Regions from separate parts of the Homo sapiens genome. Here all the other regions are reported to be linked to region 1. Evidence: microRNA targets listed by miRTarBase, many of them from high-throughput screens and not tested one by one. Region 1 holds a microRNA gene; each other region holds the end of a gene's coding sequence.
What was found. The annotated mature microRNA hsa-miR-6784-3p reads UCUCACCCCAACUCUGCCCCAG and lies in region 1 at 1,076-1,097, opposite strand. An mRNA with a match to its seed (bases 2 to 7 or 8) in the 3' UTR can be bound and repressed. Matches are read on the target gene's strand: a 7mer-m8 pairs with bases 2 to 8, a 7mer-A1 pairs with bases 2 to 7 and ends in A, and an 8mer does both.

Region 1 (3,248 bases):
CCCACCTTGGCCATCCCCTCATGGGCCTCAAGCTCACACCACCCTCACTTCCAAATGTCCCCAGCCTCCCTTGCCTTCCTCCACCTCACAAAGAGCCTTTCTAGAACCAGTCTGACCCCACACTGGGGCCCGTTCCAGCCTGCTGACCTGGATGCTGAGAGTGGTTCTGGGAGGTCCTGGGTACTCGGGGTCAAAGGTCGAGTCAGGTTGCCGCAGGCAGGCAGGTTTTAGGACGTAGCCACACTGCCCATTGACTAGGAAGCGCCCGGCATTGAGGTCCATCTCGTAGCCTGGCGTCTGGAAGTTCAAGGCCACTGTGGACACAGCAGGGTCAGAGCAGGGGCTCTTAGCGGCCCTGTTCTCACTACTCAGTTTCAGGGGACTGCATTCCTCTCTACAAAGGGCCTGGGGTCCCACTGTCTGCTTAGTGCTGCTCTGCTCCCACCATGACTTTAGGGGAGGGGGTCATGGACCCAGCCCCCACTGTCACCTGTACTTCTGCCCTGGGATCCCTCAAGACTGGGGTGGGAGGTACTAAAAAAGCCCCCACCCTCAGGGCCAGGCTTGGGTCAGAGCCAGGGGTCTGAGGAAGCCTGGGGTTTCCATCCTTACCCCAAGGAGACGATACAGCCCTCCTTTGGTGGGGCTCAGCGTCCCCCAGAGCCCACCCTTGTCAGTGTTGACTTAGTGGGACTGCCAGGTGTGTGGGGGTTGTGTGTGTCCGGGGGACATGGGAGTGGAGATTTTAATTTCTACCATGATAAAAATGCGAGACCTGTACACTGTCAAGAACAAACGAGCCTGATTTGATTTTCCCACCTACATTGCTGGCAACTTTAAAAATAATCAACAAAATGCGTGTTTCCACCGTCTGGAAGGCTGTGTGGGCCCCTCACTGCTGAGGCCTCCCCCACACTGTGGCACCCCGCCTGCTCTCATTCCTGTGGCCCCCACTTACCCAGCTGACAGCCCGAGTTCCACATCTCCTGGGGACTGTAGTTGGCTGAGTTCATCCGCAGCCCCAGCGGGTACACGCGGGTCAGCTGGCGGGCATTGTGCCTGACAAAGCTGTTCCCTGGGGCAGAGTTGGGGTGAGACCGTGACAGACTCCGGGGGTCCCTCACCCAAAGCCCCGGCCTGTAACCTCCAGGGAACAGAGCCCAAGCCCGTCCCCAGGTCACCCTGCCCCCGCTCCTCACTCTCTTCTGACCTAGAGTGAGAGGGGAGCTCACTGAGGAGGCTGCAGGGACCCCCTCCAGCCACACAGCCTGGCCCTGCATCCCCAGCCCCCAATTCCCAGCTCCTGACAAAGTTCCAACCAAGTACACTGAATGCCCACGGCCCTCCAGCTCCACTGTGGTTCCTGGAATTCTTCTCCAGGCCAAGGCCCCAGGCCTTCAACAACCTGTTCCTCCTGTCTGGAAAGCGCTCTCCCCTCTTCACCTGGCTGCTTCCTAGTCCTCCAGGTGATGTGTCCTCTCAGCATCACCTGCCCCAGGAATTCCTCCCCAGTGTTGCAGCAGCTGCTGGGCTCCCCCAGCCCCCAGCCCAGCCTGACCCATCACCCTCTATGGCCGGCCCCACCACAGGGCTCTGAAGGCAGACAGCAGGCCGCCCTCAGCGTGCCACTCCCCTCCATCCACCCTGGCATGTGCGGGGCCCTCATTCCCTCAGCCCAGCCCCTCTTTGGGGTCCTCTTGACCTCTTTACTGTCCCCCAAAGCCCCCTCAACTCCTTTCCAGACTCCCTTCAGGAGGTCTCTCACCCTCTCGCCCCCAGACACCCAGTGCCCCAGCTCCTACCTGCCTCCCGAATGAGTTTCTTGGCTTTGCGCTCGCTGAGGGAGCTGACCTGGCAGGGTTGTGGGGCGTTGGGGGCAGGGTGCAGGGTCCGCAGGCGGGTGGCGTGGCAGTACACAGCCAGGGCCGACAGCTCCGGGGAGATCTGCTTGGCCTAGGAGACCAGGCTCAGCGGGGTTCAGCTGGCCCCCGCTTCCCACATCCGTCCTCCCACCTTCCCCCCCTTCCCCACCCCACCCATCCCAGCTCTCACCAGCCGCCTCTGCGCTGCAGCCTCCACCTCCTCTTCTTCCTCCTCGTCATCCTCCTCCTCCTCCTCCCGATCCGACAGAGCCCGGCCATCCTCGCTCCGAGCAGCGGGCAACTTCTTTCCCTTCACCAGGACCCGGCCCTTCAGCTGCTGTGGGGGCCAACGTGGAGGATGAAGGGTTAGGCCTTCTCGCCCCTGTGGCAGCCAGTCAGTCAGTTATTCAACCACCGCCTTGTGAGGGGCTGGCTAGGGGTGGGAGGCAGGAAAGGAGACACAGAGATGAGCGATGTTTCTAATAGGAAAGAGTGGAGAATGGCCCGGGAGGCCATCAGGAAGGGATGCTTAATAAGGTCCCTCAACATCAGAATATACACAGCAGCCACTACAATGCACGCGACAGCTCAGGACTGAAAGGAAAGGGACCCTCTTCAAAGAAGATCTTACGTGGAAGAAGTGAGGCTACAACCTGGAATCACATGTCCTTTTTTGGTACCATTTAAAAGAGAAGACAGTACACATATGTACACAGGTAATGTGTGTGGGGAAATTCTTGAAGGACATGCAAGAAAGTTAGAGATGGTTACTTCTTGTGAAAGAGGACAGGTCAGTGGAGGGAGGGGAGCACTGCTCATCGCGTCCCTTAGTACAGCTCAGTTTTCTTTTACCATACGGGTGTGATTTTCACAGTAATAACAAAAATCACATCTCACACACACACGAGGGTGAGTCAACCCTGCCTGCATGTTGGGGATTGGAAGTAGGAGGAGAGTTTTCTCAAGGAGCCCGACAGGATAAATGTCTGGAGAGAGCCGAGGACGCGCTCTGGTGTCTGGGGGAGAGCAGGAGGCCGCCTCAGGCCCGAGAGTTGGGGAAGTGGATAAGGCCACAGGAAGAGGCGGCTGAAGTTGAGCTGAATTCTAAGCAGGTGACGCTTGGCAAGTGTGGATGGCCGAGAAGGGACTTCCAGGTGGAGAAAGTGTCAAGCGGGGCCTTGCAGGTGGGAATGGCAGAGCCTGCAGGACTCTACGGGCAGGGACACAGGGCCAGCAGGGCAAAGCCAGGTTACAGAAGAGGGTGTGTGTGTGGGGGGGTCTAGTCAAGAATGGAGAGCCAGAGGGCAGCAGAAGGACAAGACCAGGGGATGGCAGACCTCAGATGAACAGAGGAACAGAGAAAAGTTAAGGCAGCAAGAGGTGAGG
Region 2 (3,248 bases), not on the chromosome of region 1:
GTGTCCATTTCTCTCTCTGAAATGTTCCACTGTGAGTAATTAAGTATATATTTAGCCTACAGATTAATATTCTCCCAGCTGTGCCTTAATCCTAAAACCTATCATAGTAACCAAAAAAGATAGTACTGCATGATTAAGTGTATGTTCTGATCGTATTTTGTGTTTTTGAAATACCCTCTTGTGCATGAAAGAGACAGTGATATATAATAAAGTAGGATTCAGGCTAGCTAAGCTTTAGCCCTCACTGTGCCATAAAATTGTATGAAATTAAACTATTGATTTACTGCTCTGTGCTTATTTTTCTTATCTGTAAAATTAGGAGCTTAGACCAATTGTTCGTAAGACCACCTCATGATTCTAAAATGTATGAATCAATGTTAGTTGAACACTGATACTCTGTCAGTAGCTACATAAAAGGTGTGGATTTTTTTAAACAAAAAGGTGCTTGATGTTCATGTGTGAAGTGATTAGACTTGAGCAATATGGAAAAGCTGAGGTTTTGTACTACCTGAATGGCACTACAGAAATTCAGATTTACATAATCTTCTTCTTTTTCTTCTGCAGTTTCTGTTTCTATTCTTGTTCTTCTCTCTTGCCTTTATTCTATGGCCTTGATGTCAAGGTGCCTCTTAAAGGTAAGATTCCATTTAATTCTCAAAATGTGGTTCTAAGAGGTATTTGATAAAAAGGATGTTACCTATAGTTACTATGCCTTTCTTTAGTTTTTTGTTTTGTTTTGTTTTGTTTTGTTTTGTTTTGTTTTGTTTTGTTTTGAGACAGAGTCTTGTTCTGTCACCCAGGCTGGAATACAGTGGCACAATCAGATCATTCACTGGCAGCCTCAATCTCCCAGGCTCAAAGCGATCCTCCAACCTCAGCCTCCTGAGTAGCTGGGACTACAGGCATGTGTCACCATGCTCAGCTAATTTTTTTTTATTATTATTTTTAGTAGAGACAAGGTCTCACTTTGTTGCCCAGGGTAGTCTTGAACTTCAGAGCTCAAGCAATCCTCCTGCCTTAGCCTCCCAAAGTGTTGACCAAGCCATCAGGCCTGGTCTATATATTTTAACTATGCTATATTTTTAAAATACAAACACACTTGCTTTGGTTAGCATAAATGCCATAAATTGAGAAATAGATCCAGTCTATTTGGGTGATTATTAGAAAAGTGAAGAAACCAAATATTCTGGGAATCAAGAATCTGTTCCAGTTAACTGTATTACTTTGGGAAGTCACAATGTCTGTGGTTGTTAGCATTCTCATCATAGTCTCCCATTATGCAGAAAGTTGCATCTGTATCTGCAAAGTGAATAAATAATGACGTTATCTTTAGTGTTGCGTTCAGCTTGAAAATTCTGATTCTGCTAATCTAACAAGCTAGTAATGACTGCTGTTTTTTTCACCCCTTTTCCCCAGTAGAGACTAGGGAGTTCATTAAAACTCAAGAAAGCAGGCTAAGTGGATCTTGTTTTCAAATAAGTTACTTTTCAATGTCAATATAGAAAACAAAAAGGAGAGTCTTATAATTACTATTATTAAGTCCATGTCTCATGAATACATGCATAAATAATCTTAGTGATTCCCAGTGCTTAAAAATATAGATTTTTAAGCCCCACCTCAGACTTGCTGAGTCAGATCACTGGAGATAGAGGGAGATAGAGAGAGGGTGGGAGAGATGAGAGCAAGGACTGGTCTGTATTTAACAAGCACGCTATGTGATTCTGATGGCCGGCCAAATAGGGAAACCACAAATCTCAATACCACTGTTCAAAAAGAAGAAGGGCCAGCGGCTATTCTAAATCCATTTATCATGGTTCATGTCAACTCTGATTATCCTATTAAATTATATTAGCCTGAGATCTTTCCTGGACCTCAGGTGATTTAACATTTTCTACAGCAAGTTGGAAAACAGAAGAGAGGCACTTTCTCCCTCCATAGGTATGAGATCTGTTACCTGGATATGGAACAGACAAGTAAAAGTGCTTTAGAATAACCTGATACAAGCAAAGAGTTAAGTAGATATGCTCAGAAAATATATGAACTCATAACTCACTCTCTGGCTATATTCTTTCTTCCAAAATATTTTCTTTTCAGATTGACCACTATCCTTTGTCTGTCAAGAAAGATGACAGCCTTGTAGGATGGAAAGAAGAGGACTAAGTCTCTTAAATTGAATGGGAATATCCAAATTGAAGTGGAGGGAGATTCACTAGTAAAGGATCAAAATGACCAGAGTATCAGGAAACAAACAGCCTCCCCCCACCAAAAAAAAAAAAAAAAAAAAAAAACAGTAAATAAATTTTAAAAGTAGGGAAAATAAATTTCAGTAAGAGACAAGTAATACATGGTGGTTTACAGAAGAAATATCAAACCTTGTAAGTACTAGGTAGAAAATGGATAGGCTTCAGCATTAACATCAATGCTGGCCAAAGCTGATTATGTCCTGGGAGCTGTTCTAAGTAATAGATACATTTAATCCTCATGAAATCCCCTGTGGGATAGGTATTGCTTTTATCCCTAATTTGTAGTTGGAGAAACTACAGCATGTGACTTTCCCAAGACCATCCAGCTACCAATTTGTACCCAGGCAGCCTCAGCCCAGAATCCACTTCTAACCACCAAACTGCCTCACAAGTAAAAAAGGGCCTTTCTCCCATGTTTCAAGCAACATTGGCGTTCATATGTATCCTCATCAGAAGCGTCATCTATTTGTATAGTACTACTTAGCTACTGGCTTTTGAAATTACAGTGTGCTCGTCTCTGTACCTTTTCCCATTTTGTGTAACTCCTTGAGGGATGTACAAGATTTGATGTTTTTCCTCCAAAGTAGCACATAAATGACACTTAGTAATTGTCTGTTAAGTGAATGACTATAATGATAATTAATAATATAGCCGATGAATGTGACAGTGAATCTGGGCAATAAATATATTGCATATGCAGTAAAATGGCTGAGAGGTTAGAGTGCACAGCTTACAAGTCAGATATAATTTAAAGCTTGAGTCCTGCCATTTACTAGTTGTGTGATGATAGGCAGTTTATTTAATCCACCCAAGATTAGGTTTCCTATTCCACAAAATGGTTATAATCATGTTACCTACAGCAGGGTGTTGTGTTGAGAGAATGAGACGAGGTTATGCATGTCAAAGGCATAACAGTGCCTGGAAAATCATTAATCAGTAACTCTTAGCTATTATTAGATTTAAAAATTAGCTACCACATTTACTGAATTCAAAATTACACTAAAT
Region 3 (3,248 bases), not on the chromosome of region 1:
CGCCTTGCTCAGTGTCTTTGACCTGCCTGTGCCCACCCCTCCCAGGTGTGGGACATTGAGTCCAAGGAGCAGGTGCGGACCCTCACGGGCCACGTGGGCACCGTGTATGCCCTGGCGGTCATCTCGACGCCAGACCAGACCAAAGTCTTCAGTGCATCCTACGACCGGTCCCTCAGGGTGCGTGCTGGCCCAGCGGTGGCAGGAGGCTCAGAGGGCTGGCAGCTGAGCTCCGGCGGGCCCTCACGTCCCATGTGCCCCCAGGTCTGGAGTATGGACAACATGATCTGCACGCAGACCCTGCTGCGTCACCAGGGCAGTGTCACCGCGCTGGCTGTGTCCCGGGGCCGACTCTTCTCAGGGGCTGTGGATAGCACTGTGAAGGTCAGTGCCCGTGGCTCAGGCCATTCAAAGGGGCTGCACAGGATGGAGCGGGGGTGGGGACGAGGAGCTGGCAGCCCCAGCACAAAGTGGTGGAGGGCAGGTACGTGTGGCAGGTGTGGCTGGGGCAGGGCAGCCGGCCGCAGGACATCCTGGTGAAGCAGCCCTTTCTCTGCAGGTTTGGACTTGCTAACAGGATCCAGGCCAGGCTGTGGTTTCCCCTGAACCAGCCCTGGACCTTTCTGAGCCAGGCTGGCCACATGGGGTGGTCTCGGGGTTTCTGCCTGCCCCGTGGGCATAGGTGGACAGGCTCTGGCAGCCGGGCAGTGCCCTCCCCGTCCCATGCTCGGCGAGCCTCCCTCTACTCGGCACTGTCCTTGCTGCCCAGCCCCTCTCTGGGTGCCAGGTACGACGCTTGCCCCGGCCCACCCTCCATCCCCACCCTCCATCCCCACCCTAGATGGAGCGAGGGCCTTTTTACTCACCTTTTCTACCGTTTTTAGACTGTATGTAGATTTGGTTACCTCCTGGTTGAAATAAATGCTCCACAGACTGTGGCTGTGAGTGGGGACAGCTCCTCGGGACAAGGGGGCTGTGTGTGGCCTTGAGGTTGGTGTGCACAGGCACTGGCTGCTGTGAGTGGGGGGGCATGGGGCAGTTTCCTTTGGTGGACCCCAGGACTTCGGCCCACTCCGGGGCCTCCCCTCCCTGCTAGGAGGCAACTCGTCACACCCAAGCTGCTGGCCTCCAGTCCCATCTCCCCCAACACATGTGCCCCCAAAAAGTGAGCCAGGCACCTCTGTTTCCTGCTGTTTATTGACAGCCGACGGCAGCGCCTTGCCCAGACCTCCCCTGCCCACCTGCTGGAGCCCAGCCTGTGCCGCCCTCTGAGGAGAGGCCTGGGGGGACAGCTGGGCACGTCCACTCGCAGGGAAACACGGGGTGAGACAGCAGGAAGGGGCCCTGCACGCCGGGACGCCACCTCCGCCAGCCGCCTCCACCCGCCCCACACCACAATCGCTGGTTTTCGGCATTTTTTAAATTTTTTTTTTAAGAAACGTCAAAGTTGTGCCCAACACTGTGGATCAGCAAACACGATAGAGGAGACCAGTCAGTACTTCTTGGAGGGGGCAGGAGGAGAGAGGAAAAGGGAGGGCGAGAATGACCACACAACACAGCCTTGGACCATGAGCAGAAGCGTCCGTGGGAACTCCACTGGGGTGGATGGGCTGCCTGCACAGCCCCTGGAGAGGGGGCCAGGCACACCCTCAGAGGAGCTGCAAGCCCGTGGCCTGGCCTGCTACATGCCCTGCTTCCACGTGGCTGCCACGCTGACACACCCACATTCACCAAACCCACCCGCGCCCTGGGACGCAGCCACGCCAGGAGGAGGACACGGCCGCCGAGAGCAAGGCACAACCTCGAGTTCTTGGGGCGCAGAGAACTTAGGAGAGAAGCACGGAGGAGCCCCCGGCAGAGCACCCGCCCCCGGGCCCCAGCCTTCCACCTGTGCTAGCAGCCTGGGGCCTCCACTCTGGCCGGAGGAAGGACCGCAGGCAGACAGCCTGGGCCTCTAACAGCTTTTGTCCGGAGCTAGACTTCGTGTCCTTTCAGTTGGTAAATGGTTTTCTATAGAATCAATAATATTTCTTTCTTTAAATATATATTTGTTAAAGTTATACCTTTTTGTTTCTCTGGGGAAATCCGCCTCAGCTCATTCCCAATAAATTAATACTCTTGATAGCTTATATTCTGGGGGTGCGGTGGGGCAGGGGGGCCCTGACCTTGGTCCCCTGTCCCTTGTGCTGCGCCCGAGCGGCTGGCCGGGCGTCCCGATGGGCAGTTCTGTGCTGGGCCCGGGCCTGTGCGCTGCCCCATCCCTGGTCCCGGGGCGCCCTCCCCTCCCGCGCGGGCAGGAGGCCCAGCAGGTATTGCACGGGGAGCAGCAGGTGGGGAGGACCCGCGGGCGCAGGGTCTGCCTAGAGCCCTTGGAGCCCCCGGCCAGGCGGTCCCCGGTGGGCGCCCCGGCCCGGGTCCAGGGGCCGGAGTTGTGCTTCTGCAGGGCCCTGCCCGGCCGCTCGCGCCGCGCCCAGACGCGCCCATCCTGAGGTATAGGTCAGTGTGCGGGGAGGGCCCGGGCGGCGCGGGAGGGCCCGGCCAGGCGGCGTTCACTCCAGCATGGCATCCAGCTGGTCGGCCAGGTCGTCGAACATGCTGCCGATGTCGTCCAGGATGCTGCCAGTGCTCTTTTCCGCCGCCGAGTCGCTGCGGGGCGCGGGGCAAGGGGCGTGAGTGGGCGGGGCGGGTCTGGCCACGCCCACCCCGACCAGGACACGCCCACGTCCCGCATCTCCGTCGGCTTCCGCCTACCGCACGACGACCTCGGCGGAGCCCCGCTCACGGCACGCCCATCTCTGCCGAGCCCCGCCCATCTCTGCCGAGCCCCGCCCATCTCTGCCGAGCCCCGCCCATCTCTGCCGAGCCCCGCCCTCCGCCCGCCAGGCCCCGCCCCGCACCTACCGCGGGCCCTGCGCGTCCTCCTGCCGGATCTTCTCCTCCACCGCCTGCAGCGCCGCGGCCAGGCACGCGCTTGTCTCCTCCAGTTTCTGCCGGGCGCTGTCCCCTGGCGAGGCGCCTTCGGGCGGGGCGGGGGGCGCGGCGGCGGCGGCGGCGGCGGCGGCGGCGGCTCGCGGGGGCTTGGCGGGCACGTGCAGCGCGGGCGCGCCGGGGGACGGGGGCTTGGCGGGGCTGGCGCCCAGCGAGGGCGGCGTACCGGGCGGCTTGGCGAGGGCGGCGGGCGGCTGTCGCGCGGGCGAGGGTGCGGGTGAAGGGCCGGCGCTGCCCGAAGGCAGCCCCGCGACCGCCTTGAC

Region 2: the mRNA of JAKMIP2 is a reported target of hsa-miR-6784-3p. The part of its 3' UTR that is shown has no 7-base or 8-base seed match.
Region 3: the mRNA of TRAF7 is a reported target of hsa-miR-6784-3p. Seed matches in the 3' UTR shown: 8mer at 1,319-1,326.

The regions. Positions count from the first base shown.
Region 1 is chr17:45,113,292-45,116,539 of GRCh38, forward strand. It overlaps MIR6784 (microRNA 6784), which reads right to left and starts at 1,142; the gene lies at 1,076-1,142. It overlaps PLCD3 (phospholipase C delta 3), which reads right to left. Exons shown (of 15, transcript NM_133373.5): 9 at 2,053-2,199; 10 at 1,803-1,953; 11 at 959-1,075; 12 at 148-314. RefSeq lists enhancers at 1-369, 1,236-2,101.
Region 2 is chr5:147,599,128-147,602,375 of GRCh38, reverse strand. It overlaps JAKMIP2 (janus kinase and microtubule interacting protein 2), which reads left to right. Exons shown (of 22, transcript NM_001270941.2): 21 at 565-635. The coding sequence ends at 615. All of the region lies in intron 3 of JAKMIP2-AS1 (JAKMIP2 antisense RNA 1), which reads right to left. Among named protein-coding and RNA genes, the nearest start is that of JAKMIP2-AS1, 41 kb to the right of the region's middle.
Region 3 is chr16:2,176,004-2,179,251 of GRCh38, forward strand. It overlaps TRAF7 (TNF receptor associated factor 7), which reads left to right. Exons shown (of 21, transcript NM_032271.3): 19 at 46-177; 20 at 262-381; 21 at 557-2,126. The coding sequence ends at 571. It overlaps CASKIN1 (CASK interacting protein 1), which reads right to left. Exons shown (of 20, transcript NM_020764.4): 19 at 2,899-3,248; 20 at 1,177-2,643. The coding sequence ends at 2,547. Among named protein-coding and RNA genes, the nearest start is that of CASKIN1, 19 kb to the right of the region's middle. RefSeq lists an enhancer at 1,825-2,326.